Homo sapiens: one gene and its partners. The protein of the gene in region 2 interacts with the protein of the main gene of each other region in a pairwise test. Each region holds a gene or a part of one and is shown on either strand. Other genes may lie near its edges.

Region 1 (7,027 bases), on a different chromosome or scaffold from region 2:
ATGGTGGCACACACGCACCTGTAATCCCATCTACTTTGGAGGCTGAGGCAGGAGAATTGGTTGAACCCAGGGGACGGAGGTTGCACTGAGCCAAAATCGCACCACTTCACTCCAGCCTGGGTGAAAGAGTGAAACTCCATCTCAAAAAAAAAAAAGAGAAGACGAAAAGAAAAAGAAAAGAAAAAGTTTAAAATTTCAATGAAAGCCAGTTTATCTGTTTGGTTTTGTTTTTACATATCATGGTTTGGGTGTTTTCTTAGAGAAATTTTATAGTTTTAGCCCTTATAGTTACTATGATCCATTTTAGTTTTAGCTCTTATAGTTACTATGATCCATTTTGATTTAGTTCATATTTATTTGTATCATGGAAAGATCTCAGAAAGCATGCTAAGTGATTAAAGCAAATTGCAAAGTGATATGAGCAGTACAATACCATTCATGCAAAATTTAAAAGCGTGAAATACCATCTATTATTCATAGCTATACATGCACATATAGGTTAAAAGTTTCACAGCAGAATTTTGATAGGGGTTGCCTCTGAAGGGAGGAGAGGAAAGAACTGGAACAGGAAAGAACTGGTGGACAAAAATATTGCAAATTTTTCTGCAATATTTTTAGGTTGAAATACATTTGACACAATATGAAGTTACCAATTTGGGGTGGTTAATTATGTTGTACTTTTTAGTTTTCTGTATTTTTTTTAACTTCTCAAAATACACATACACACACACACACACACACACACACACACACACACAAATGATTCAAAGTAAGAACCACAGAAAACAATCCATTTCTGTTGAGTTTGGTGGCCACACGGTTGAAGCACTGCGGTGGGGTGTCGTGCGTCCAGCCTGTCCACCTGTTCAGGGCCAATTCTGTTTGTATATGGGGTTTCTAGCTGAGAAAGCTAGAAGAAGGATAACTGTCTTCATTTGAATTCACTCTCACACTTTGGCTTCTATTTTTTCCAGTTTTGCTTCCACAGAAAACCCTAGTCCACCTTCCACACTCAGTTCCCGTTGTGCTGAAGAGCTACAGAGCCCACATCTCAGTGAGCGGCCCTTGATTAGTTTTCTCCTTTTATTTATTTTATCCCATTGCTCCAAACTTTCTCCACAACTATACCAGGGCCTCCCAAGGAAAGCTTGGTTTCTGTTTACCATGTGTCCTTTCTCACCTCGTCCCCGCGGGGTGGCCCCGGACAGCCTTGCTGTACATGTGCAGTGCATGTGGCATGACTGGCCCCATGGCCCCGCTTGCAGCCTGCAGCCGAGCTCCGCACATGCTCAGAGCATGCCCTGCAGGAAGTGGGGTCACAACCTGCAGAGTGCACACTGCCACCCTTGGAGTCAAGGGGTTGTTCCCATGCCTCCCACTGGCAAGCTGTGTGGCCTGACACAACGTCTCTTTCCATTCTTCTTCTTCTATAAAATGGACATAAAAATATATACCCTGGCTTGGTATGGTGGCTCACACCTGTAATCCTAGCACTTTGGGAGGCGAAGGCGAGCAGATTGCATGAGCTCAGGAGTTAAAGACCAACCTGGACAACGTGTTGAAACCCCGTATCTACTAAAAATACAAAAAATTAGCCCAGCGTGGTGGCGCACACCTGTAGTCCCAGCTACTCGGGAGGCTGAAGCAGGAGAATCTCTTGAACCTGGGAGGCGGAGGTTACAGTGAGCTGAGATCGTGCCACTGCACTCCACCTGGGCAACAAAGCAAGACTCTGTCTCCAAAAAAGATATATACGTATATAAATATATACATACACACACACACACACACACACACACGTATGTCCTTTCCACTCACAGGTTGCCGGCAGCAGCGGGGGGAGGGGTCCAAATGAGAACATGTACATGAATGTGTTTGCAAACAAAATGAAAGCTGTTTGCATGTTACTTCCTGCCCTGCAAGCCAAGCCCTTCTAGAGCCCTGGCCCAGTCACGCAGCTCACTCTGTCTCCACCACTCTGTGCCAGCCTCTTCTTTCCCTCCCATTCTTGGTCTTGTTCTTAGGATGTTCTCTCTCTCTGCCCTGCACGCCCCCTTCCTTTTTTCCTTTTCTTCCTCTCTCCAGTCTTGGAAGCAGCCTAACTCCTTCCTTTCAAGTATGATCTTGTACCACTGAACTGAGGCCCACTGGCTGGCTCTGGTTGATGGAGAAAAAGTACTTTCTTCCTTCCTCAAAGAGGTCAGGTACTTGAGATAACGTATTTTCTGTCTTTGAATCTCCAGGCTCAGGCCACAGGGTCACCACATACATCGCCCACCCATGGAGGCGGCCGGCCAATGCCCATGCCAGTGCGCTCCACGTCTGCCGGCTCCACCCCCACCCACTGTCCGCAGGACTCGCTGAGCGGAGTCGGGGGAGACGTGCAGGAGGCCTTCGCACAAGGTGAGTTTCTGGAGCAGAGTTCAGCGGGGAGCTGAAGGGATGTGCAAACACGGACAAGATTCCTGCTGAGGTTTTTTCCATTTCTGTTTTGTGCTCTTTGCTTGGAATGATCAGATTTTGACAGACAGTGTAAATAAGTCAGGTGCTGGCCCCTTCTCATGAGACGGGCTGGTCTCCAGCGGGAGGGCTGCAGGCTTCCTATGTGTGCCAAGAACAGGCCTCCTGGGGTTCTCTGCCCTTTTTTCTGGATTATTGGAAGTGCTTTGTCCTTTGGGCTTTGTCTCCTCCAGAGGAATTGGATGGAATAATTCCCTGGCCTAGAAGGGACTGTAACAGGCACTGTAACTGGGACCGTGCTGAAAGCACAGTATGCACGCCATTGTCACAGTCATCGGGGGAGCTGGTGACCAGCAGTATTAAGTAGTTGGGTGGGGATTCAGAGGGAAGTCCTGCTGGGGCTGGAGGTGAGAAGGGGAGGTGGTAGTGGTGGTTGTGGAGAGTACAGCCCCACCCCCACAAGGCTGAGGAAGACCTCGGTGGAATGCTTATTCTGGAACCCAGCTCTGGATTGTGTGGTGGCGGCAAAGCGTGGAGTTGACAGGATGCTGCTCCCTAGGTAGAGAGGGCAGAGGGAGAGGGACCAGTGGGCTGGTGCCTCCTGCCCCCGGTGTGCCTGGGAATGGGTGGAGCTGCTGTGGCCCCATCTCCCCTTAGGTGTTCCACACCTGTGTTCTCGGGCCTGGCAGAACTGAGGCATTTGCTCAGCCGTCTCTTCTCCACGCTCACCCACCCTGGCATCCCCATCTGCTCTGCCTCTCCTCAGGTACGAGGAGAAACCTCCGCAATGACCTGCTGGTGGCAGCTGACTCCATCACCAACACCATGTCATCCCTGGTGAAGGAGCTCCATTCAGGTGAAACCCAGAGCTCCCAGCCAGCTTCCTGGCCTCCCCTGCCTTGCCCGCGCCCTTCTCACTTCCTTGCCAGCACCGGCAGAACCTCACCACCCAGCTTGCACCACCCCATTTCATCACCTAACTTTGCCTTCTAGGAACACACTGGATGTCTCCACCCAGAGAGCCTCTGTCACACAGGATCGCGTAGGGGCGGTTTCACATTCAGGCCTATCTCAGGAGTGCATCTTGTGGAGCAAGCTGAATGTAGAGAAATTCAGACCTTTCAGTGCAGGCAGGCCCCTTCCTCACTTACCTCGTCTTCCATCTGTACTTTGTCCACAGCCGCTCTCTCCCTAGGCCTGACCGACCACCTCATTCTGAAACTTCCCTGGAGGTCTGGAGCGGAATCAGCCAGGAAAGCTCTGGACCTTCCCCTGCTGCCTTTCTGCTCTCTCCTGTTTGATTTGTTTTTGAAACCTATTCCCTCCTTTTGTCCGTGACCAGGCTCTGATTTCACCTGAAGTTCATGACCTGAGTCTGTCGCCTCTTCTGCTCCTTGTGTTCAGCTCATCTGTGACTTCTTTCTCAGTCTCTCCATCACCTCACCAATTCAGTGACTTCCCAAAGACCTTTACCTCGTGGCATTTCACCTTACATAAAACCCAGGAAAGAGAGAGAAAATAAAAGGCCATTCACGTATCCTCCTATCTCCAGGAATCCCCATGACTCTACCAGTTACGTAGGGGCCAGAGAGTCACTAACGATTTCACAGCGGTGGGGTCTCCATGTTTTGTGTTAAACTAATGGTTTCCCTCCCTAAGCGCTGTAGGTCACTCACACTGATGGCTCTCTTTTGTTTCTTTCCACCTAATGTAGTGCTTTTAAATACCTTGAAGTAGCTTAACAGGATTATTAAATAAAAAGATAAAGCAGTTTTTCCACGGACGATTCAAACACATACACTTATTCAAACACTCTTAGGGAAGGCAAGCCTTGGGTATTTTTCAGCCCTTCGTAGGAGAAAGCTCACATGTTTAGGGTTGTCATGGGACTGGACAGAGCCCCCAGCTCTGCTCTCAAGTCTGCCTGTTTTCATACAGACCAAAGTGAGTGTATAGCCCAGCTTCGTCTTTCCAGTCAGTTAAGGTCAGACGCTGCCTCTCTTGTTTGATGGTGCCACCCTCTCCATTCTAGCACTGTTTCTCAACCCCCATCAGAAGCACGGCCCCGCTCTGTACACATAAACAGAAGAGGCGACAGCCTTCAGGATGACCTCACAGGTGATTAGAAGGCGCTTTCCCTAATGCAGCTCCCCACAGATGTCAGAAATCCCACTTTTAGAGGAAATTTCTCAGGGAATTTCGGGCCATGGGAATTAACTACACTTGTACTTCATGGCCACTTATTAGAGTTTATGCAAAATAAGTGGCTTCTGCGTTCATCGTGCTAGGGTGAGAGGTCATTAAATACCATTAAGTGGAAAGCACATAGAGACCAAATAGCTTCACAAAAATGTAAAGCTTATAGGAATCCTCAGCAGTGTCTCATAGTAAGAAAGGATGGTTTCAACAAAATTATGTAGTGTAATTTGGAAGGTGCCTTAGAGAGCACATTGTCCAGTCCCTTACTTTAGAGATGTAGCCTGTGCTTATCAGAAAAGTGGTCTGCCTAAGGTCGTGCAGCTTGAAGGGGGAAAGCTGGTCCTAGAACCTGGGTCTTCAGAGCATCAAGCCAGAGATCTTACTCCCCTCCAGGACAAGATAGCAAACCCAGAGTCCCAGAGGCCCCTTTCCCTGATGCTGTCCTCTCAGTCACTGAAGCCTGTAGGTAGACGTGGACCAAAGCCACACATGGCACGGTATCCCTCTAACATGCAGACATAAACTCCCTTTACATGTGAGGGTGCCAATTTCTCAGTGAATGGAATAGCTTCACCCATCACCAACATGTTTTTACTGTCTCCTTGACAGTGACTTGACAGGTTTTTGTTCCAATGAGAGGACATACTCAGATTATCTTTACATATATTCTATACAGTGTATACATACTGTATATACATAGCTTGTAGTCCTCATCTTTATAAAGTTTTTTCACAGATAATCGAATCCTAGAATTGGAAAGGATCGAGGCCACAGGCACAGTGGCTCACACCTGTAATCCCAGCACTTTGGGAGGCTGAGGCAGGTGGATCACCTAAGGTCAGGAGTTTAAGACCAGCCTGACCAACATGATGAAACCCCGTCTCTACTAAAAATACAAAATTAGCCTGGCATGGTGGTGCATGTCTGTAATCCCAGCTACTCGGGAGGCTGAGGCAGGAGAATCGCTTGAACCTGGGATGCAGAGATTGCAGTGAGCCAAGATCGCGCCGCTGTAGTCCAGCCTGGGCAATGAGCAAAACTCCATCTCAAAAAAAAAAAAAGAAAAGAAAAGAAAAAAATTGTAAAGGATGTTAGAAGTCATTTAATCCAACTCGCCACCCAATAAAACAGTCCTCTGAATATTTCCAGCGAGCTCATTCATGATCAACTCTAATCACTGGAAACTTCTTCCTCAGTGGGGAGCCAAAATCTCACTTTCTGTAACTGATTTATCCCTGTCCTCTCAAGCTACCCAGGATAAGCTCAGTCCCTCCTCTGCAGGCTCGCCTTTCACGGGTTGGATGGCAAATGACAACCCTTCCTAGTTTTCTCCTCTGTAGACTGCTACACCCAATTCCTTCAACCTTTCCAAACGTGACATGGTTTTCTCTTACCAGCCTGCTTGACCATACCAGGATGTGGCCATTTTCCAAGGCTCCTATTCAAAGTACATGCCCAGGGCCCAGCACCCTGCTCTCCATCACAGGGGATCTTGTCCCTGCAGAGCACAAGGCATCTGTGACCCTCTTGAGTGTCCCCTGGAAAAGCACCTTAGACGGCATTAGCACTTCCCACATAGCCACTTTGCACTGTGCGGTCATTTTAAGTTTATCATCAGCTAAAACATACGGAATTTTTTTTTTTTAACAGAACCCCGTGTTAATCTAGGTATTCCCCCACCATATATTGTATGGTCACTTTCTTAAACCTGAATGCAAGACATTAGATGTCTCCCTGGTCATCACCACCTGAGGGCAGACAGGCATAGAACAGAGGCACGCAACCCCACACTGCACGCCCCCAGCCCTGGTCAGGAAAGTGAGCGATGTGACCGCACTGCTCCCTTTGGGCTGTGGTCTTACGGGCTCCTATTCAGCAGTGCTGGGGCGTGGGCCGCACAAGTGCAGACTGGTGAGCTGAAGCACCCTCAGAGGCCTGCAGCCAGGAGCTGTTAGCTAGAGTTTCCTCCCAAGCCTCAGCAGTTGCTTTGTTCACCCTCCTTCTGTACTTGTCCTGTGCCGAAGGGTCACTGGCCTCCTTGGACTTGTTTTCACAGCAGAGGAAGGTGCAGAGGAAGAAGAAGAGAAGATGCAGAATGGGAAAGACAGAGGTAAAGGCAGCTCAGCAGGACTGCTCGTTTAAATGGGGAGCCCGAGCTCATGGATCAGCCGCCCCCCACTTTGTTTCTGCATTCCTCCCTGCCACCACCTTTCCCAGAGCTTTCGGACCCGAGGTCCCTGTACCTACTTTTCCCATCTGACAGTCAGGTTTTACCTTCCAGGTGACAAGGTCAGTCGATCACCAAGAGCTTCCTCATTTCCTGATCCTGGGATAGGTAGTTGGGATACAGGAAGTAGATACAAGTAGA
Region 2 (7,027 bases):
CTCTGCTTGCCATCCACTGGGAAAGTGACAAGCAACAAAACAAGTCAGAACAAAATACGAACTAAATGTGGCATTCATTCTGACTGGGGTTTCAGGGGTGGCTTCGTTGAGGGGAAGATTGGCACTTGAATCAGGCCACATAGGATGTAGGATTTCAAAGGCAACAGCAAGAAGAAAAGCAAGGAAATAGCATGCTTGGCATATTTGAGGGAAATGATCAGAATTGAGCCCAATCCAACCAAAGAACAAGGGAGAAAACCAGACATTCCAATGTTCTAGCCTGAGGATAAAAGTAACCTCAACTGAAGCACAAGATAATTTACCACCCAACTCCTTCATGTCTAACACACAGCAAGTGCTCAATAAATGATGTCTAGGTTAATCGTGACCAATTCAGTAATCTCTTTGTTCAATTTATTGAATGATGTCAGCATATTACCATGTATTCTCCGGGGTCTAAATCTCCCATCATTCCTTTTAGATGTGTGTTTTCAGTTCTGACAGCTTTATATTTCATATCTGAGACCTGAAATTAGCAGATAAAAGGCAAATGTAAAATTCATAATAAAAACTCATAATTCTATTAAAATTTTGTCTTGTGAATACAAATATTTTCTAAGTGTAATGAAGGGAAACACTTCTTCGGTACGACCAATAACATTCAGGTATTCTTATTTAGTTCTCCTGTCTTTGGCAGGCACCACTTTACGTCTTTTTCTGATCAATGCTAAACTACAAGCATATACTTTCAATAATGATTCATTTAGTTTTGTCCTACAATCCCAAAATTCCATTTCTGGTTTCTATTTTCTATTGTATGCAAATTGTCACCAGAAAAAGCACATGTTAAAAGCATGTTTGAGTAACTGTCCATTAAATTTATTCAACACCTGATTAATTTTTACAATAGGCAATACATAACTTTCATGTTTAATTTTGTTCTGATATTTCTGCCAAAATTCCATCTTTTTTAGTGACTACTTCATTTTGTCTCTCAATTTATTTTATCTTTCCCTGATTTATTCTACTTGACAGGACTTGGATATGGTATCTGTCCTTTTACTTCTCTAGGACTCATTTCTGTATAAAACACGTGCCTTAAAAAGATTTAATTTTGTAAATTACCAATTTATGCTCATTGACAAAACCTAGAAAACGTACAAAAATATAAAGGTGAAAATAAAAATTATTCATAATCCAACTAGCCAGATCACTGTTAACACCTGTAAAATATCCCTGCCTATACAGGTACAACCAAAGAGATTATCCCATCTGTGCTGTTTTCCTGTGTACTGCAACAATAAATCACGGTTTAAGGCTTACAACTGGGCAAAGGCTAAATCTTTTCTGTTTTCATAATTCACGATTTTAGTCATGTTATTTGTGAAGTGACCCTCATATGCCTAGAAAATTATTAAATGATGCTCTCAAAACCTTTAGATTTGGGGTAAAAAAGCAGATAAACCCTGTGCTCTCAATAGTAGGCCATCCATTTGATCATGAGTAAGGGATGGAGGGAATTTAAAAAATAAATAGGCAGGAAGGAAAGGAAGGATGTAGAAGTTACTTGTAGTATTTTAACAGAAGAATGTTACAATTGCTGTTTTTCCTCACGTACCATGCTGTGCATTGACTGCATGTTCAGTAAATATGAACTAATTTTCATGTTTCAACATCCATTTGTAAAAAGCCTGAAAGAAATACATGAAGTGTGGGGGAGGGGTAGGAAGTGTTGAAGAAGAGCTGGAATAGAGACTTTTTTTTAAAGATAAAAATGTTAATGGAAGAGAAATACAGAAAAACATACTCAGGAAGAAATATTTGATTAGAGTGTACTGTGGGAGGTGATCAGAATATAGGTTACAAGAAAATGGAAAGATGAGATTTAATGAAATTGTCTTGCACTGTCATTTCCCTAGTCCTTTTTGTTGGTGACACTTTGTGTTATCTCTGAAAGGTTTTATGTAACACCACAAAGCATTTCTGTGAAGCTAGTCTCAGAAATAATACCAAGAAATGTAATGTTTTCATTAGTCAATAATGAAGGCTACTATTGGCACTGAGCAAGAATGTGCCCTAGACAAGTGCTATTCTGCCTGCTTGCATACCTTTTGTTTTGCTAACATTTTTTCTTTTATTTCTAATTCCATTTTTAACTGTTTTTCCAGAAGGGCAGCTTTCTTTGTGACAGTTGCTATAGTGATCTCCTTCTGATGAAGCTCTTCTGTTAGGTCAGAGATTTCATTCCTCATTCTTTCCTGCTCAGAGTTATGGTACTCTTCCACCTGTTGGAGTTGGCTTCTTATCTGCAGCAGATAGAGACTGGAAATATTATTGAATCCTTTTATTTATAGAGTAGCTTAAAATTTTACTGGCCATGTTCAGTCCTTCTATTCTGAAACTTTGTCAGGGCCCACTTCACCCTCCTTTTCTGATCAATGCTAAATTAAAAACAGATACATATAATAATGACTCATTACCTTTTTTCCTTCCAATTCCAACATTTCATTTCTCACTTCTATTTTCTGTTGTATGCAAATCATCACCTATGACTGATACTACTTTGATAACCACTTTGAGAGGAAGGTAAAGAAAGTATTATCAAGCATTTTCATGGAGAAAAAAATTGGCTTTAAAATGGTTACATGATTTGCTCAAAGTCATAAAGCTAATAATCGGCAAAGCTAGGACTGGAATCTAGGACTCTTGGCTTTAAATTCAGTGCTTTTTTAAAACTAAAATAGGCTGTACTGTTTGTAACTAAACATTTGTTTCTCAGAATCACATTACAGTAAACTTCAAACAATGTCTTCATGAAAACTCATCACTTCCCTTACTTAAGCCTCTTATTTTCTGAATCTTGGCTAAGCTTCCATGTTACAAACCTCTGGATTGTCTCTGACTCCTCTCCACCCTTGTCCTCCCAAACCTGGTCAGGCAATGAATTCTGTCCATTCTATTTCAACCTCTTTTAAGTCTTGCCTCTGTCTCCATTCCTACAACTGCTGTCTTTGTCTAGCCTCTTAGCATCTTTCTAGAAACCATTACTGTTTCTAATTCTTGAGACTTAAAGTACATAATCATCCGTCTAAAAAAAAATCATAGTCCATTGGGGAAACAGAAAAATAGACGATTACAACACAGTGTAGCAATTAGTGTCAGCAGTATGTAGTGGCAGTGTGTTTAACCCAGCCTAGGGATGACAGGATAGGATTCCCAGAGGAAGGGTCATCAGACCCAAAACTGAAGGATGAATGAATGCCAATTAGAGATGCTCTAGCCGGGCGTGGTGGCTTGTGTGGGAAGCTGAGGTGGGAAGGATGCCTGGAACCCAGGGGGCAGAGGTTGCAGTATAGTGGGCTGAGATCATGCCACTGCACTCCAGCCTGGGTGACAGAGCAAGACCCTGTCTCAAAACCCTGTCTCAAAAAATAAAAATAAAAAAAATAAAAAGGCATAGAAAAAAATAGAACATATAGATGCTCTATGAAAAGTAAAAACATTAGCCGGGTGTGGTGGCATGTGCATTCAGTCTCAGTTAGTCGGGTGGAAGGGGCACTGGGGTGGGAGGATCCCTTAAGCCTAGGAGGTCTAGGCTGCAGTAGGCCCTGATTGCACCACTGTATTCCAGCCTGAATGACACAGCAGGATCCTGTCTCAAAAAAAAAAAAAAAAAAGAAGGAGGAAGAGAAGAAGAAGGAGGAGGAGGAGGAGAAAGAAGTAGAAGGAGGAGGAGGAGGGCTCAGAGGAGGAGGAGGAGAAAGAAGGAGGAGGAGGAGGGCTCGGAGGAGGAGGAAGAGGAGGAGGAAGAGGAGGGAGGAGGAGGAGGAAGAGGAGGGAGGAGAAGGAGGAGGGATCCCAGGCAAAGAGCTCAGTGAGTGAAAGCATGGCACACTCAGTGAACTAAAAGGAGTTTAGGGTAGCTAGGAGTTAGCTGCTCTGAGAAATAAGGCTGGAGAGTTAAGTAGAGGCTAGCCACAAAAGAAACATGAATTTTCTCCAGGGCACTTTTTTAAAATGGATTTTTTTTTTCATTTCACCTTTAAACATTTCAGTATATATCTTTAAAAGAACAAGGCTCTCTCTTTTTTTTAAATGTAGCCAGAATGTTATTACAATGTCTGTAAAGATTAAGAATTCCTTAATATCATCAAGTATCTAGGCAGTATTCAAATTTAAGCTTGTCTCAAAAATATAATAAATGTTGTTTAAGTTTAATTGAATTAGTATCTAAACATGATCCATTCATTGTGACTGGCTCATATATCTTTTTAAAGCCTCTCTTTTTGTGTGTTCTAAGTAGTTTACATGCATCATCTCATTTAATCCCCACAATGTCTCTCTATTTTGCAGACTACTGTATTTAGCAGATTAGAAAATTAAGGTGCATAACTTTTCACATCACATTTCTTGTGAAAGGCAGTCTAATTCCAGGACCTGTGAACTATTGTGCTCTGCAACCTCTGTGGGAAGGGTCCTGGAAGGTGTGGAAGGTGGTTCACATTTGGAAAAACCTGAGTTTTAGGGGTTGACACCTACAGAGAGATTGGAAAAATCTGGGTTTTAGGGGATGACACCTAGAGTGAGATCAGAAAAAGCTGTGTTTTAGGGGATGGCACTTAGAGTGGGGTGACCTAACATGGAAAGTACACATGTCCAGAGGCAAATGTGATCACCATCAGGCTTTATGCCACCAACCCTTCCTTCATCTGATTCTATTCATATTACCAGCATATTCAGAGTTTCAGAGTTGGATATGACCTTAGAAATCACATGATCGAACCTCATCATTTAACAGATTTTTTTAAAAAAGAGTCACAGGAACGAGAACAAGGCGGAAACTAAGAGACACGAGCACAAGTATCCTAACCCGGAGGACAATATTACAAATCTCCTTTAAATCTCTTCTGTCTCCAAGTTTTTACCTTCCAATTTATTTGATGAAATAACACGGTCAGTCTATAGTTTGTCCCAGTATGGATTTTGCTGATCGCATCCCTTTGGCATAGTTTAACCTGTTCCACTTAAAATGGAACTTTTTTTTTTTTTTTTTTTTTGAGATGGAGTCTTGCTTTGTCACCCAGGCTGGAGTGCAGTGGCACAATCTTGGTTCACTGCAACCTCCACCTCCCGGGTTCAAGTGATTCTCCTGCCTCAGCCTCCCGAGTAGCTGGGACTACAGGTGAGCACCACCATGCCTGGCTAATTTTTGTATTTTTAGTAGAGACAGGGTTTCACCATATTGGCCAGGATGGTCTCAAACTCCTGACCTCGTGATCCGCCCACCTTGGCCTCCCAAAGTGCTGGGATTACAGGCGTGAGCCACGGCACCTGGCCAAAATGGAACTTTTAAAATATAAAAAAATGAATATACTACTGTGAAAAAGGAGTAAACTATTTTTATTATTTTCACAATATTTAGATGTTAACACAACATACTATACTGCAAAACTTCTTTCTTAATGAAAGAAGAAACTAATTTACCTGAACTCCAAATGACTTTTGGTTTATTGAAAATGTGAATGTTATCACAAAATAAATGGCTAAAACAGTTCTAGACTGGAAAAAAGGAAAAGAAATAAAATACTTGCAAGATTCATAATACATAGCTCTTGTTAGTTTTATTACAAAAGAATTAAAATGCTCTTCAGAAACACTTGGAAGCTTTTTTTTTTTTTTTCCTGAGACAGAGTCTTGCTCTGTCGCCCAGGCTGGAGTGCCATGGCGCAATCTCGGCTCACTGCAACCTCCGCCTCCCGAGTTCAAGCAATTCTCCTGCCTCAGCCTCCTGAGTAGCTGGGATTACAGGCGCCTGCCACCGCGCCCAGCTAATTTTTGTATTTTTAGTAGAGACGGGGTTTCACCATGTTGGTCAGGCTGGTCTCAAACTCCTGACCTGGTGATCTGCCTGCCTCAGCCTCCCAAAGTGCTGGAATTACAGGTGTGAGCCACCATGCCCGGCCACTTGGAAGCTATTTATATAAAATTCATTTGTTACCTTTTTTTTGCACAGCATTCTGGTATTTAGTGGCCTCCAAGGGTCTATAAAGAATTCTGTGCCTCATACTCTCTCCCACCATGTCAAAACTGTGCAAAGTCAGTAGATTCTTTATATTACTCAAAGTTTTATTACTTTATCTAAATCTATGAGGTTAAGAATCATGTAACTATACTTTAGGTGGCTTTAACCAATCTTTTATCATTCACTGGGGACACCAGTAAAAAAGAGTTTTTCAAAGTTATATTTTTAAGTCAGCAAAATAAATTTTGTGGGATTATATGGCATTAAAGTGTTCAAAATATATGAAAAATGATCACTGATTCATAACACCTTTTCTCTACTTAACCTCTGTTAGTTCTCTGACAGTCAACTCTTTGGCAGACAGTACCTGTCTTTCATATTATTGTGTTTCCTATAGAAATTAGCAGAATAGCTATAGTTCTCCTAGATACTCAACAAATGTTTGTTAAATTTGTACAAACAACTGAATTTATGACCCTATATATTTATGGGAAAATTTAGCCTTAATATTAACTCATTCTCTAAGTATTTAATTTACTGTGTGTCAAGCACTATGCAGTGCACTAATTGATAATTCAAAGCCACACCCAGGTTTATTTAACTTTTAATTGTTTAGATTTTATAGCATTAAATATTCTGCCTGATCCTCAAACCTAAAGACCAGAGAGGTGGAGAATAGCTATGATAAATTCACAGAAAGAAGGCCATTACTGGATTGTACTAGAGGGAGGAGAGAATCATACTCTTTGTAGGAGAGTAAAGAACCACAAGCTCTTTAAGGACAGTGCCCAGGACTTACTCATCCTTGTATTTCTAGCTCCAGCAGAGTTCCTGGCACATGTTAGGTGCTCAGTGAAAAAATGTGGGTGCAATAAATAACTACTGAGCCAATATTTACTAGATACTTCCTCTGAGCTAGATCCTATTTTAAGCACTTTAAGTGCATTATCTCATAGATTTTACCTTAGGGTAAGAGTATGGATACTGGAGCCAGATTGCCTAGAT
Region 3 (7,027 bases), on a different chromosome or scaffold from region 2:
GAAGTAATAAAAACAAAAATAAAATAAGTCAAAGTTAAAAAAATAAAATGAGTACTAGAGAATTTGGGAAGAGAAGTACCTTTTTAATAGATATATAAATTATAGTTATTTAACTTAGAAAACAATAACTTTAGTGTTTCTAGAAAGTAGATGGCATTTCTAAAAAATAGTTACATACACTTGATAAAGAACAGACATTCCTTCTGAATTTAGAACTTTATGAGTTATTGTTATAATTAGTAAGGCTAAATTTTAACACAAAGGACTATAATAAAACATTCTTTGAATATTAAAATAATTCCCCCAAAACCTATATTAAGCTTTACAAATTTCAGACAAGTCATTCCATCTGAAACTCTGTCCAAGATATACATGGCTGTGAGTAATGTGTTTCTGTGAAAGTCTTTTGGATGAAAATAATGAACTTTGGGTTTTAGAATATTTGATTTACTGCCTTTGGGTTCCTCTGCTGCCTGTTTCTCTTGCTAAATATTCAGACTGAGACTTTACTATGACTAATCTTACTCCATTCTTGGACGTTCTGCCTCTGCAGTGGGGAAGGAGACCCTCCTGGATTATGGTGAATATTTAGCTCTGAATCAAATGAATGTTTAAATCTCTAAGACTTGCAGTAATGTTGAATTTGGCTGGATACCCTGTGGTTATAATATTTTAAGCCTTTAAAAATATACAGATTCTCAAATAGCGACAAGCTTTTTTCCTGATTTTTTTTCCTGCCTAGCAACTTTGTTATTATCCTCACTGTCTACTTCAAACAAACTGTATGCAGTTTACAATTCTTGTAGCATATGGTTGCTGCCTACAAGCACTTTGTGTGCCTTGGCAAACAGCCACATGCAACATTGAAGAATGGTTTCCTGGATGAGTACTAGAGAATTTTGTTTCTATCCATTTTTCTACTTGAGTTCAACTTTCAAGATAGGGTTGGGTTAGACATTGTTTCTTTCTTCCCTTCTCCCTCCTTCCTTTCTTCCTTCCCTTTCCTCTCTCTCCCTCTCTTCTTTCCTGTTTCATTGTTGCAGCTATCCTTTACCCTAGGTAATTTATGTTGTCAGTATCATTAGAGGTTCTCATCAAGCAATGTTAATGTAATACTCATGTTGACAACCCCAAGTGTTTCTAGCTTTTGCCTTCTCCTGAATCCTCACCTATATTTCAAATCATTTTGGTTAAAATCCATTGGTTTTTTTGTTTTGTACTTCTGGCCTAAAGAGAAATCCTCATGGCAGAAAACGTGTTGGTTTGTAAGCCTCATCACTGATATTGAGACCCAGTGTAGATTTGTGTTTTGGAAAAACAATAGCTTTATTTAGCATTAATTGAGATGAGGGCTGGGTGTAATTTCCTGCTACAAAGGAGAAATTGGGAAGGAAGGAGCAGAAGCTTTTAGAATATAGAATGGGTCTGACAGCAAGAGATGAATATTATGTCTTGAGACATTGGTAGTGCAAGAGGCAGGGGATCAAAGCACAGCCCCTTCTTAGTGTGAGGTCCCTTAACCCCTCAATCCCTAGCTCCCCTTTCCCACTTCCAACCGTTTCCTTGCAGGAAGCCTGGAATGGGATGCCCTGGCACATGAGGGGGTGGCAAAGCAATGGGCTGAGAAGTGTAGGAGAAGCAGCTCCAAGAGGTGAGCTTGTGTTTCTCTTTTCTGTTTTGGGCCCCTTGTGGTCATCTTTGTGTCCATGCTGTCTGCACAGATTGTAGTCTAACTGCTTTTCTGCCATTTGATCAACTGGTTGAATTCATTTATCTACCATTGGGTTACTTATTTTTGCCCAACATAATGATAGCCTAAATACTTATAGTCCGAACTCTCTTCGGATTTATAGAGCATTAGTCAACCATAGTCTCAAGTGCAAGTAAGAGATCATTTTTTTGATTAGCATCTAAATATTCTGCATTGAGAAAAATGCATTAAGGGGTGAGAGAAATGTATGTGTAATAATGCATTTATATATACATATAGATACGTGCATATATGTATATAAACAAATATTCACACATCTATACATACGTGTATATATACATATAATAAGTACACACGTATGTATATATTATGTATATGTATAGTTTAAATGTAACCTGGGCATCCATAAATTACTATGGAACTTGTTAAACTATATATCCAAATAAGCAGAACATCACATTTTCAGTATTTATATATTGCAGTGGAAGTCTTTAAACATCAAATCTTACTGGTGATTAACAAATTTAAGTATTATCTTAACAGAAAAGGAATATAAATTTGCTATCTGTATGTTTTGTTGCCCTTTGGGAAAATTATACTGTCAACCAGTGTTAAATAGAAAACCTTCAAATCAGCTATAAATTGACAACAAATAGCAAAGTCTGAATGAATGTGTTCTGCCTAACATTAAAAAATGTCTTGATCCTAAGTCTCTTCCATTTGACATCTCTAGCCCTTAATGCCTTTTTCGGAAGACAAGCTGTTATGCTGAATATGCAAAGAGGCAGGAAGAAGCCTCTGAAGGCACGGTGAGGCTTAGTCGACGCCTTCCAGATTGGTGTCAGCCACGTTGCGCGGCTGGGGCCCAGCTGAGGCCCCTACTGGCAGCTCCTCTGCTGCTGCTCGTGGGGGCTGCCTACTGGGCTCGCATGCAGGCACCATGGCTGCAACGTGCTCTTCTGCTGCGCATGCTGGAGCAGGCACATCTGCCTCCATCTTCTGTAGGGAGGCCTCGGTGGGAGCCTGTGGGGCCTGACCGGAAGCTTCTGCCTCTGGCTTCCAGGACGCCTGATCAGCCTGTGCTCCAACAGGGAGACCCTCGCATTGGGTTTCTGCTCCCAACCCGGCAGGAGAATTACTGGCCTTGGAGGGAGGTTCAGCATCACTGCCTCCTTCGGCTTCAGCCTGAGGAGTTAGGGGAGGCAGGGGACTCTCTGAATCCCGTGAAGGGATCAGAGGGGGTTGCTCTGGCTCCTTGAGAGCGGCGTCAGCACTCTCCTGAGAACTGCCTATTTCGGGTTGGGTTTCTTTGGACTGGTGCGGGGTTGACTCTGGATGATGAATTATCATGAAGGCTGTGGCCAGATTTTTCACGGCGGTTTGGACACTATTAACCTCCTCTGCGTCAATCTCTTGATCCACAGAGACGTTTGACTCTGGCTCTTCATCGGAGTTGTGCTGACTTTGGTCATCCTTTTCAGATATTTCTGCGTCTCTGATTTTTTTGTGGAGTTCGTTTCTCTCTTCTTGTAAAGCACGGCAGAGGTTCTCTAGCCTCCCGATTTTCATCACAAAGCACTCATATTCTTTAGCTCTCAGTGCTTTCTGTGATGTGAAAACACACGCACATACACACACAGATGAAATGACATGATAAGCAAAATGTCCAGGATGCTTTCTGGAAACAAGCAAAACTATTTGTCCCAGAATTTGTCTACTAGGCTCTGGGACCTGGCTACAGAGTAGGGGCTGAACAGATGCTTGGTCATGGACATCACTTTCCTTTTTTTTTTTTTTTTTTGGCATTGTGTACTAGACTGGTAGATTCTTTAATCACCATACCCTGTTCATTGGGAAAGAAAGATGGTCAGGCTTCCTTCTGCTTTGGTCCATAGCCTCTCAAATCTTATGGATGAATTTTCTGCTTCTGAGACTTAGAAGGTAGAAGCAAGACTTGCGGCAAGATAAATGAGATGGATTGGGACTTGGGTTTCAGCAATGCCTTCCTTATCTGTTCTATGAATAAACTGCTATGTGCTAATCCCAGCAGCCATTTGATTTATGTTGATGAGTAATATCTCTTTGGAATTGGTTGCAATTTGAGAAGAATTGTTAGAGCAGTAATTATAACCATAGAAATTCACCATATACTAATTCACGATGCTGGCTGCTCAAACGGTTCAGTTTTTTCCTCTAGAAATGTCTATTTGTGCATGAAAATGTTCCTAATTATCTCACTCCTTCACCTCACCTCTGAGCTACTCTGTCCCTTTGAGACCTTTTTTCCCCCACTCGTTATACATGGAGAGACCTTCACCTGTAAGCCCTACCTCTCAGGTCAGGGGCCATGTATCTTTGCCTTTGGACTCTCAAAACCTACTTGGAGCCTGGCATGAGATCAGTGTTTAAATGTCTATTGGAGGAATTAAAAAGATATCTCCATATCTGTTTATATTAGAAAATAGCACATGCACTGGACTCTTGGGCTGGTGTCTTCTCGCAGTATGTTCAAATCAACTAATTAATTTATTCAGCACCTGTTATGTGTCAGACACTGGGGAAATTTAAAGTAAAATAAGACACTCATCCTACCTTTAAGGAATTCACAGCCCTTAAAGGGGACAGCTGCCCTGGGTACAGCTATTGAATCAACAGGTAAGCATGTGACTTAGGGTCACAAAACTCTTTCTGAGTCTGGACCTGATTCTAAATGACCTTTGCTCTTATTATACTTATTACAATTTAAAATGTCACATCCTGCCACCCCAAATTCAACTCTTTTTCACACATAACCATTTGTACTATTACCAGGTTATAATTGTATCGTAAGTTTGAATGTTTTGACTAGACAGAGGGGATTAAAGCTAAGGGAGAAACTTCCTCACCTCTTCAATCATGTCCAACAGAGCTTTGTTACAGTTCTCAAATCGGGCTTTCCATGTGGCTGTGTCCTTTTCCAGCTTCTTCATTTTCTTAGTTGTCTACAGAAATTAGAGTGAGTGTGTGTTAATCTTGAAAAGTTAATATATCAAGGAAGCTATTAGCTCCATATGTGAGACCAGGAGAAGCCCTTTTGTTACCAGATGCTGAAGCAAACAAATGTTCAATGTCAAGAATGAAGATTGTAGCAGAGTCATAATTTATTTCTGAGCCGTCTAGGGCAGTGGCAAGCAAACTTATTTGCACCTGAGCCAATTCAGGAAATGGGAAATGACTTAGGGGCACATGGTTTTGTCACTGCTTTTTCTTTCATTTAAAAGAAGAATATCTTTATGGAGTTCCATGAACAAGCCTGTAATTTAGGATATTTACTGTATTGAATAGAAGACTATCACAGTGGGAAAGCTGGCATGGCCTTTTTAGCCATTAAAATGTTGATAATATCTGGGCACATCTGAGAAGTTGCTGCACAAAAGCAGTCTCTGTATTTTCTGGGTCTTTACATTTATAGAGTGAGGTAGAGTTCACAAAATGTGATTACATGCATTATTTGTTTCATCCTTGAAACAGTCCCACAAGGAAGGTTCTATTTTCACCCCCATTTTATAAATGGGGAAACCGAAGTTCGGAGAGGTAGAGTAATATTTAGGTGAATTAACAGAACAGTGGGGCTGCCATTCTTTTATTTCATTTAATGAAGCATATAGAATGTCTGGTGGTCACCAGGCCCTGGGCTGGGTACGAGGAAGTAAGAAGTGAATAAAATGCAGCCTGTGTTTTTCGAACCTGAGGCTACTCACATTCTTGTTTGTAGGATCTCTTCTTTGCTTAGATGAAGTGGAGAACGAGGCATGTACTCAGGTGCAGTTTTCCTGGATGAAACATAGCTGGGCACTCGCTGCTTGGTGCCAAGCTGCCTGAAGCTGGGTACCCACGGAGGCCAGAGGCTGGGCCCAAGACTGTCAGCCCCTGGCTCTACAGACAAGCTAGGTTTTTAATTTTGATCATATTTTAAATTAGTTAGTAGTTTGTAAACTTCTTTGTTTTCTTCTTTTTTGTTGTTGTTTGTTTTTCACTCTTTTGCCCAGGCTGGAGTGCAATGGCGTGATCTCGGCTCACTGCAAACTCTGCCTCCCGAGTTCAAGCGATTCTCCTGCCTCAGCCTCCTGAGTAGCTGGGATTACAGGCGCCTGCCACCATTCCTGGCTAATTTTTTTGTATTTCAGTAGAAACAGTGTTTCACCATGTTGGCCAGGCGGTCTTGAGCTCCTGACCTCAAGTGATCCACCCGCCTCAGCCTCCCAAAATGCTGGGATTGCAGGCATGAGCCACTGCGCCCAGCCAGTTGTTTGTAAACTTTAAGGTCATCAATCTTTTTAAGAATGTGGTGAAAGCTATGGGACCACACTTCACAAAAATGTGCATATGTGCATCATTTTTTTTTATGGTAATTTCTAGAGAGTTCTCAGGTCAACTACTAACGTCCATAAATGGACCCAAGATTAAGAACTCCTGATTTAATATTTATTCCACTCTTAAAACTACATAATTTTGAAAAACATGTTTTCCTGTTCTAATTTATTCCAATCTTAAAATGCTAGAATTTCAAAAAAAAATTAAGCAAATGGATAGTTCCATTCTGAAGTGGGAGAACTGTAACATTTAACAAGTGCCAATCTTCTTCAGGTTGCTCATTGTAAAATTTGTCATAATATTTTAAAAATATATTTTAAGAGGATGTTTTCTACACCTCAAAACCATTAATGCCAATCCCTGTTCGGAAACACAGTTCTGATGGCTGATTTTGTATTGGGAAGACACTGAACAAGCTTTAAACATTACATTAAATTATAATACTGGCACCTTATATTTGAAAAATACATGTAAAAAGTTAAAATCCCTTCCAAAATGTATTAATTTAACTTCACAATCTTGTGAGTTAGGCAGGGAAAGTAGTATCTGCATAGATTAAAAAAAATTAGAGGCCAGGCATGGTGGCTCATGCCTGTAATCCCAGCACTTTGAGAGGCCGTGGTGGGTGGATCACATGAGGTCAGGAGTTCGAGACCAGCCTGACCAACACGGTGAAACCCCGTCTTTACTAAAAATATAAAATTAACCGGACATGGTGGTGCATGCCTGTAATCCCAGCTACTCGGGAGGCTGAGGCAGGAGAATTGCTTGAACCCGGAAGGCAGAGGTTGCAGTGAGCCAAGATCGCACCATTGCACTCCAGCCTGGGCAACAAGAGCGAAATTCCATCTCAAAAAAAAAAAAAAAATTAGATTCAGGAAGTTAAGTGAATTGATGAGTAAGACCACTTGATGAGCAAGAACACACCAGAATTGAATTCAGGCTTCCATCTTCTCATTCAAG
Region 4 (7,027 bases), on a different chromosome or scaffold from region 2:
TGTGGACTTTCATCCCCTTGTCCAACAAAAGGGACCTTGTACACAAAATTAACCTGAAGCATTAGTCTGTGTGGTGCGAGAGTCCACGGGGCCCTCGGGATATTGACTCCCCCACCCCCCCAACTATCCAGGCTCAGCCCAAAATCCTGTCTAGAGGGCTTCCCCACTGTGGAGGCTGGGGGAGCTTCCCTAGAGATTAGAGACCCTGCCCCTTCAGAATCCGCTTCTCAGCTGCAGCTGTGCAGCCAAGGAAGGCCTTACCTTTCAGAGAATAAACAGAAGAAAAAAACTTCCTCCCTGACTCAGTAACAGTAGAAAACGACCTGACGTCATGGCTGCAAAGGCCCAGAATCATCTGAGAACTAAGCCATCCAATATGACGGCCACAACTGCACGCGGCTTCTGAGCACTGGACATGGGGCTGGTTCTGAGCGTTGAGACCAGAACATCATGGTGAAATCGTGGGTTGCTGAAAATATCTGTTTTAAAGTTAATTCCACCTGTTTCTTTTTACTTTTTATGAATGACTACTAGGAAATGTACAATTACATATAAGCTTGTACTCTCTCTCTCTCTCTCTCTATTGGACAGCACTAGAGAGGTGCAAATGTTACCACCTCAAGTGCTAGCACATTACCATGCTCTAAAAGGAAAGACTCTTCCTTTTTATTACTATTATTATTATTATTATTATTATTATTGAGTCGGGATGTCACTCTGTCACCCAGGCTGGAGTGCAGTGGCACAATCACGGCTCAATGCAGCCTCTACTTCCTGGGCTCAAGCAATCCACCCACCTCAGCCTCCCGAGTAGCTAGGAATACAGGCGTGCACCACCACGCCCGGCTAATTTTTGTATTTTTTTTGTAGAGACAAGGTCTTGCCATGTTGCTAAGGCTGGCCTCGAACCCCTGGGCTCAAACCTCTGGGCTCAAGAGATCCTCCTGCCTCAGCCTCTTGAGTGGCTGGGACTACAGGCACATGCCACCGAGCCTAGCTAATTAAAAAAAAAAAAAAAAAGTTTGTAGAGACAGGGTCTCCCTATGTTGCCCAGGCAGGTCTCAAGCCCCTGAGCTCAAGCAATCCGCCTGCCTCTGCCTCCCAAAGTGCTGAGATTACAGGCTTGAGCCACCACACCCAGCCCAGATTCTTCATTTTTAAATGCCAAAAAGACCAGTGTAAAATTGAGCAAACAGCATCATCTGGTATCAGGTGGAATCACATACGCAGAGGCTGCTCAACTCCCAGGCTGCAGTGAAGGTGTCTAAATGGGGGGAGTGGCCGGGAACCTGCCATTGTTTTAGACCAGGAGAAGCAAATGTAACCTCTATTTCAGGTGTTCTTAACTGGAGGCGATTTTGCCTCCCCAAGGGACAGTGGGCAATTCCTGCAGACATTTTTGATTGTCACATCAAGGGAAGAAGGTGCTACTGGCATCTAGTGGGGAGATGCCAGGGATACTAAATGTCCTACAATGCACAAGGTGGCCCACTCCCCCCAAAAACAATTATCCCCAAACATCAACAGTGCCAACACACAACCAGGAAGTGACCAGGCCTGAGATCCACCCAAGTATCTCTTTTTTTATTTTTTTATTTTTAGTAGAGATGGAGTTTCACCACGTTGCCCAAGCTGATCTCAAACTCCTGAGGTCAGGCAATCCTGCCTAGGCCTACCAAAGTGCTGGGATTACAGGCATGAGCCACCATGCACAACCCAAGCAAATTTTTAATACTCAGATATCCAGGAGCAGGAGGGGACATCCCTTTGCAAAATGGCTTCTCTCCAGAGCTCGGAACTGGTCATAAGTTTGAGCGGTATAAGCAATGTGAGGAAATGAAAATACTACTAATAATTTAAAAACTATAATCGCTTTGTCGCCAGACTGGGTTGAGTGTCAAGGGTTGATTATGTCTGGGCAGCTCTGTTTTTCAAGCTAGTAGGTAAACATGGGGCTTAAAACTCAAAGCAACATAAGGCAGGCTCCCCCACAAGCAAGAGTAGGCCTCTAACAGAGAGTCTGAACTGGGGGAGTCACTGGCATGCCCAGTTCACCATGCCTGACCACACAGGCTAGGCCTGGGTGCCTGTGACAGGCAACGGAGCAGCAAAGGAGCTGTGATGGGGCCTGCAGGTATAGGAAGGGGACAGGGCAAGGGACAGGCGAGGCCAAGACAGGAAGAGCGTGGTGCTGAATGAGAACAGCCCAGCCAGGCTGGGAGGCCGAGCAGGAGGGGGTAGAGGGGAGGCACATGATAATTAACTCTGCAAGTTGATAGTATTTGCATATAAATGCCTCCACAAATCACTACAAACAAGCCAGGACAAGTCAGGCCTATTAGCATACACAAGCCAGCCGGGGAAGGCCTCTCTAGGTGGGTCATTGAGTAGGCTGCTCACTTGGAGGGCCGCCTGCCAGCCTGGGGAGGGGGACAGAAGGGGAGGGCTGGGGTGGATGGGGGACACTGTAACTATTTCAGACTCTTTCACTTCTGAACACGGTTGCAAAGATGTCAAAAGGAGTTGGCTCTATTTCCACCCCATGGGGAAGAAGAGAATTGCTGGACCTTTTAGTTTATTTCTTCCAAGGTGGTAAGAAACGAAAGGTAGCAGAGGCCATCAGTAGCAAAGAAAGAAATGAAAAGGGCGTGGAGATGGCAGCCAATATCCGGAGAAGCTTTTCAGTATGTGAAGTGGTATGAAGCCCTGATTCCTATTTCATTTACTTCCCACTACAAATGTAAGGTATGCATTAGGCCCATTTTACAGACGAAAGAAGTGAGGCCCAAAGAGGTTAAATTACTGGTCCAAAGTCACACAGCTCAGGCCTCACCAGAGGGTGTAACACTGATGGCCTCAGCAGAGGGTGTAAGGCCCATAGCAGAGGAAAGAGCAGAGGCCACCTTTCCAAAGAGTGGGCTTTTTTGATTCACCTTTGCTTCTCCCATTCACTGTTGAGTCCCCATTTGAAGGGGATTCACAAGCAGTGCTCTGGTCCTCAGCCAGACCCTGCCCTGTTTTATTCTGTAATTATTTCCTACCTTCAAACAAACAATGAGGAAGACCACACCTCCCTCCAGTTACACATCTGGGAGTCCGCACCAGGATTTCCTCTGTCACCCAATTTTTCCACTGTCTGGACAATTTTTATAGTTTCACCAGCAAGGGCAAAATATATTGACAGTCCTTTCCCACAAGGTGTAAAAGTTCTCTGCTTTCCCCAAATATACCTCTGGATTTCCTATCTGTTGAAGGAAAAACCAGCTTCGACTGCCTCCGTTAAAAAAGGGTGTGCAGGGCTGAGGTGACCCTACTACCGTCATTTCTGCCATTCTTTACTTGAACAACATTTTTTAAGTGGGCAAAATACTATCTTATGAAAAACAAACCAACAGGGGCCCAGGTAACACACATTCATATAGTCAGTTACACAGACTGAAAGTCTTCATCAATGCCCATCTCAATTACGTTATCAAATAACATAAGGGGACACTATTCAAGATTCCATCAGAACAGAGATGGCATTTAAAAGCAGTCGCTTGAGTAGTGACACCAACCTCCTGCCGCACACACTGAAATCCATGAGCCTCTTCTAAAGTGTCCAAAAGTTGACCTGACACTTTAACGCTGATGCAGATACTCCACAAAAAAAAGCGGAGCTGTTAAAAGGGAAGCAGAAACCATTCCTCCAGTCAAGGCCAAATGTACATTAAGAACCAAGGCCTTGAGCCAAAGAGCATTTTAGGAAGCAGGGCCTTAAATGGTGGAAGAGGCTTGCATTGCTTCTTGAGTAGTTAAGAACAATTGTTTAAAAAAAGAAAAAAGAGAAGTTGGGAGATGGAGAAGAAAGGCACCCATGTGTTCTTCAGCAACTTCCACGGGACAAAGATGTTGGGAAGGGAGAAGTCATCAGAAATAGGCCACTCAGGAGACTGGAAGCATGGGGAGCAGCTCAGTTCATGTCTACACATATGTGGTTTTTATAGACTTTCAGGAGTTTAAATGCTTCTGAAAAGCGATGTTTGCATACTGAAGGGAGACAGACTTCCATATTTGAACAGGCACTTATATGACTTTTTCAGGGGATGCAGGGCTGAGATCAACTATCAGATTAAGCCCCTTGGTCTTTCTGCACTCGGCTAATCTGCCTCCTGCCTCTCCACTAAGGAGATTCAAATGAGAAGACAGAGGCAGTCGCCTCTGAACTAGAATCTTCCTACTGAAATGCAGAGCCTATGATAGAAATGGGCACCGGGGACCATCTATCCAAAAGCCAGCCTAACCGATACACTCAGAAGAATTTTTCTCCAGTCACACTCCTGGATGGAGTCAGGAACAACCAAGAAACAAGCAAAACTGTTCTTTTGCCTCCTCCTTCCTGAAAGAACCCCATCAAGAAGCCTACACATGACCCCTCCAGTGTGTAAGCCCCAATCATGCCTAACCACCCCAAATCACCCCAAGTACTCAGCCCTACTCAATAACTAACACCCTCTCCCATCTACACAGAACAGCGGGTATAGGCAGTCACTGACTCCTGCCCTAGAAGCATCGGGCGAGGGGTCTCACTCCCAGATCAAAGGTTTGTGGCCAAGATAACTTTTGGGACAGTGGATGAAATCAGCAGCAGATGAAAACTCCACAGCCTTTTTCAGAGTCCAGTGGAGCCAGTTCTCCCACTTCCAGTCCAAGTCTCCCTGCAGATGACTGAAGGTGATCCATACATTCCTAACTGCTGCCCCGAAAGACCCACTTACAATTAAACTCCAGGTCACCAGTTAAGAAAGCCTTTAGGCCCCTTATGTCATTAGCTTCCTCCCAGAAACCAAGCAGAATAGAAAGTGAGAGGCATCCCAGCACCGGCCCATCTTCTCAAGGTGTGGCCTTGCAAGGGAGTTTCAGTGGCTTCATCCCAAACCACCAGCAGCCAGGAGTAGGGGTGGGAGTGCGGCAGATGTTTTGCCCGCCTCACTGGAAGCTTTAGACCTGACTCCAGGGAGGGAAAAGGATGGACAAATCTCAGAGGCAGCACATGTGTTAATACCAAAGCTCAAAGAACACACAGCAGAACCACCTAAGACCTCCAGGACACAGCAAGCCAGCTAAGGCCCCTCTGGAAAGGTACACATCAAACCCCCCACACAGTAATCCTCATGTTGAGACTGCTGTGGTGACCCTCTGATGGACAGGGAGAGGGGGTCACCCAAAAGGCAGATGAAGCCCAGGCATTTTGCTAAGAGGCCCGGGCTGGAGTTAAAACCAACAAAACAGAAGTCTTGCTTCAAAATGGGGCTGAATTTGCCATCTCGCAAACTTTCTATGTCTCCCTCCCTGTTTTTATTTGAGCCCTTATTCTTGTAAAAGCAAGAAACTCCATGAATGAAGGCTGAAAGGCAGAAACGTCAAAGAAAGAAAAAATCCCCTTTAAATGTTAAAAGCCAAAGTACTTTCCTTGGGCAAATAACTCTCTAGAGACACCCCCATCACTGCCTAGACCACGGCCTTGTCCTCACCCACCTGTCCCCTGGCCCAAAGAATGAAAACCAGAAACATTCCAGTCGTTTCCCTACTTCTGAAGCTTCAGCTCAGTGCTGCTGTCAATCGGCACTAAGCCTTGCTCTGCACCTCTGTCCTCAGTTTCTGTCCATATCAAAGTCATTTACCATATTAGCCCAAAGAAGCCCTCCAACATCTGATTGCCACTTTGCACATGTTCAAAGAGATCAATCTGGCAGTCAACTTTAAATCATAGAGAAAAGCCCTCTGACAGTTGTTGATTTTGTAGTGCTTCTCTTTAATCTGGATTTTCAAAGTGGCTTGCCAATGAGCCAAGATTTCTGCCTGGGTCTCTCCCTCGGGGCGGTTTGACACAACCGTAGCTTCTGTGTGCTCCTTTCTCAATCTGAGTGGCCTGAGGACACAGGACACTGTGCTTTGGACAGAACAGGCGCCCTTTATGATTTAAACTAGCTCCTGCCAAGGAATTCCCTTGCCTAGATTCTATTAAAACTGGGTTCCCATTTCCCCTGACCATAGTTTTTTAACTCAGGCAGAGGACGGTGGTTCTGAGCTGTGCTGTGATTTCTAATAATAACCATTACCACCAAATTCTCATACCAGAGCATTTGGATACCCCTATGAGGTTCACTGTAATGGAATCTGCCTTCCTGTTGTGTTTTTACAGTAACGCCCCCATCCTGGTTAATTGCACCAGCCTTAGGAACCAGAGCAAGCCAACAGGCCCAAACATCACAGAAATAGGCCAGGCTAACAGCAAGCAATCATTTTAATAACAAATGAAAGCATAAACCACAGCACATACTGTACTTCTTCAGGTTACTGACAGGCATCTTCAGTGTGCAGTACGAGTGAGGGTGAGATGGAGTTTATATAAGTTTGTTCAGACCAGAATCATTGCTGCCTACTTGTAAGTCAAGGCTAAATCCTTAGAGCTGAGAAACAAGTGAGTTACTCTTAAAAGGTGAGTGTTTGTTTGTTTGTTTGTTTGTTTGCTTTGAGATGGAGTTTCGGAGTTTCGCTCTTGTTGCCCAGGCTAGAATGCAATGGCCCAATCTCAGCTCACTGCAACCTCCCCCTCCCAGATTCAAGCGATTCTCCTGCCTCGGCCTCCTGAGTAGCTGGAGTTACAGGAATGCACCATCACACTCGGCTAATTTTGTATTTTTAGTAGAGACGGGGTTTCTCCATGTTGATCAGGCTGGTCTCGAACTCCCAACCTCAAGTGATCTGCCTGCCTCAGCCTCCCAAAGTGCTGGGATTACAGGCATGAGCCACCATGCCTGGCCAAAAGGTGAGTTTTATAAAGACAGCTCACTTTCTTCCCCTTTAAATAATTCAAGCCAGTTCCCTACACTTTTACAAAATGTTGCTTAGTCACTTAAATATTTACTTTTTAAGATGACACTGTTACAACTCTGCAATAAAAATAATTTCTTAAGTAAGGGTCTGCTCTGAGCCCTGAAGCATTTCCAGATTCTTACTGATACTTTGTAGGTGGAAGAAAAAA

What was found.
Region 1: the proteins of DEUP1 (region 2) and DTNB interact in binary tests that used the Homo sapiens proteins (3 or more experiments, as listed by UniProt).
Region 3: the proteins of DEUP1 (region 2) and TXLNB interact in binary tests that used the Homo sapiens proteins (3 or more experiments, as listed by UniProt).
Region 4: the proteins of DEUP1 (region 2) and ZFHX3 interact in binary tests that used the Homo sapiens proteins (3 or more experiments, as listed by UniProt).

The regions. Positions count from the first base shown.
Region 1 is NC_000002.12:25,383,578-25,390,604, reverse strand, and holds part of DTNB (dystrobrevin beta), read left to right. Parts: intron 1-2,243; coding exon 2,244-2,403; intron 2,404-3,226; coding exon 3,227-3,316; intron 3,317-3,453; coding exon of another isoform or gene 3,454-3,506; exon of another isoform or gene 3,507-4,243; intron 4,244-4,492; coding exon of another isoform or gene 4,493-4,542; exon of another isoform or gene 4,543-4,578; intron 4,579-5,394; exon of another isoform or gene 5,395-5,539; intron 5,540-6,715; coding exon 6,716-6,769; intron 6,770-7,027.
Region 2 is NC_000011.10:93,389,738-93,396,764, reverse strand, and holds part of DEUP1 (deuterosome assembly protein 1), read right to left. Parts: intron 2,323-7,027; coding exon of another isoform or gene 2,307-2,322; coding exon 2,109-2,306; intron 527-2,108; coding exon 440-526; intron 17-439; coding exon of another isoform or gene 1-16. UniProt on the Homo sapiens protein: Key structural component of the deuterosome, a structure that promotes de novo centriole amplification in multiciliated cells.
Region 3 is NC_000006.12:139,239,999-139,247,025, forward strand, and holds the end of TXLNB (beta-taxilin), read right to left. Parts: intron 4,693-7,027; coding exon 4,597-4,692; intron 3,317-4,596; coding exon 2,528-3,316; 3' UTR 63-2,527; downstream 1-62. UniProt on the Homo sapiens protein: Promotes motor nerve regeneration. May be involved in intracellular vesicle traffic.
Region 4 is NC_000016.10:73,038,115-73,045,141, forward strand, and holds part of ZFHX3 (zinc finger homeobox protein 3), read right to left. Parts: intron 1-7,027.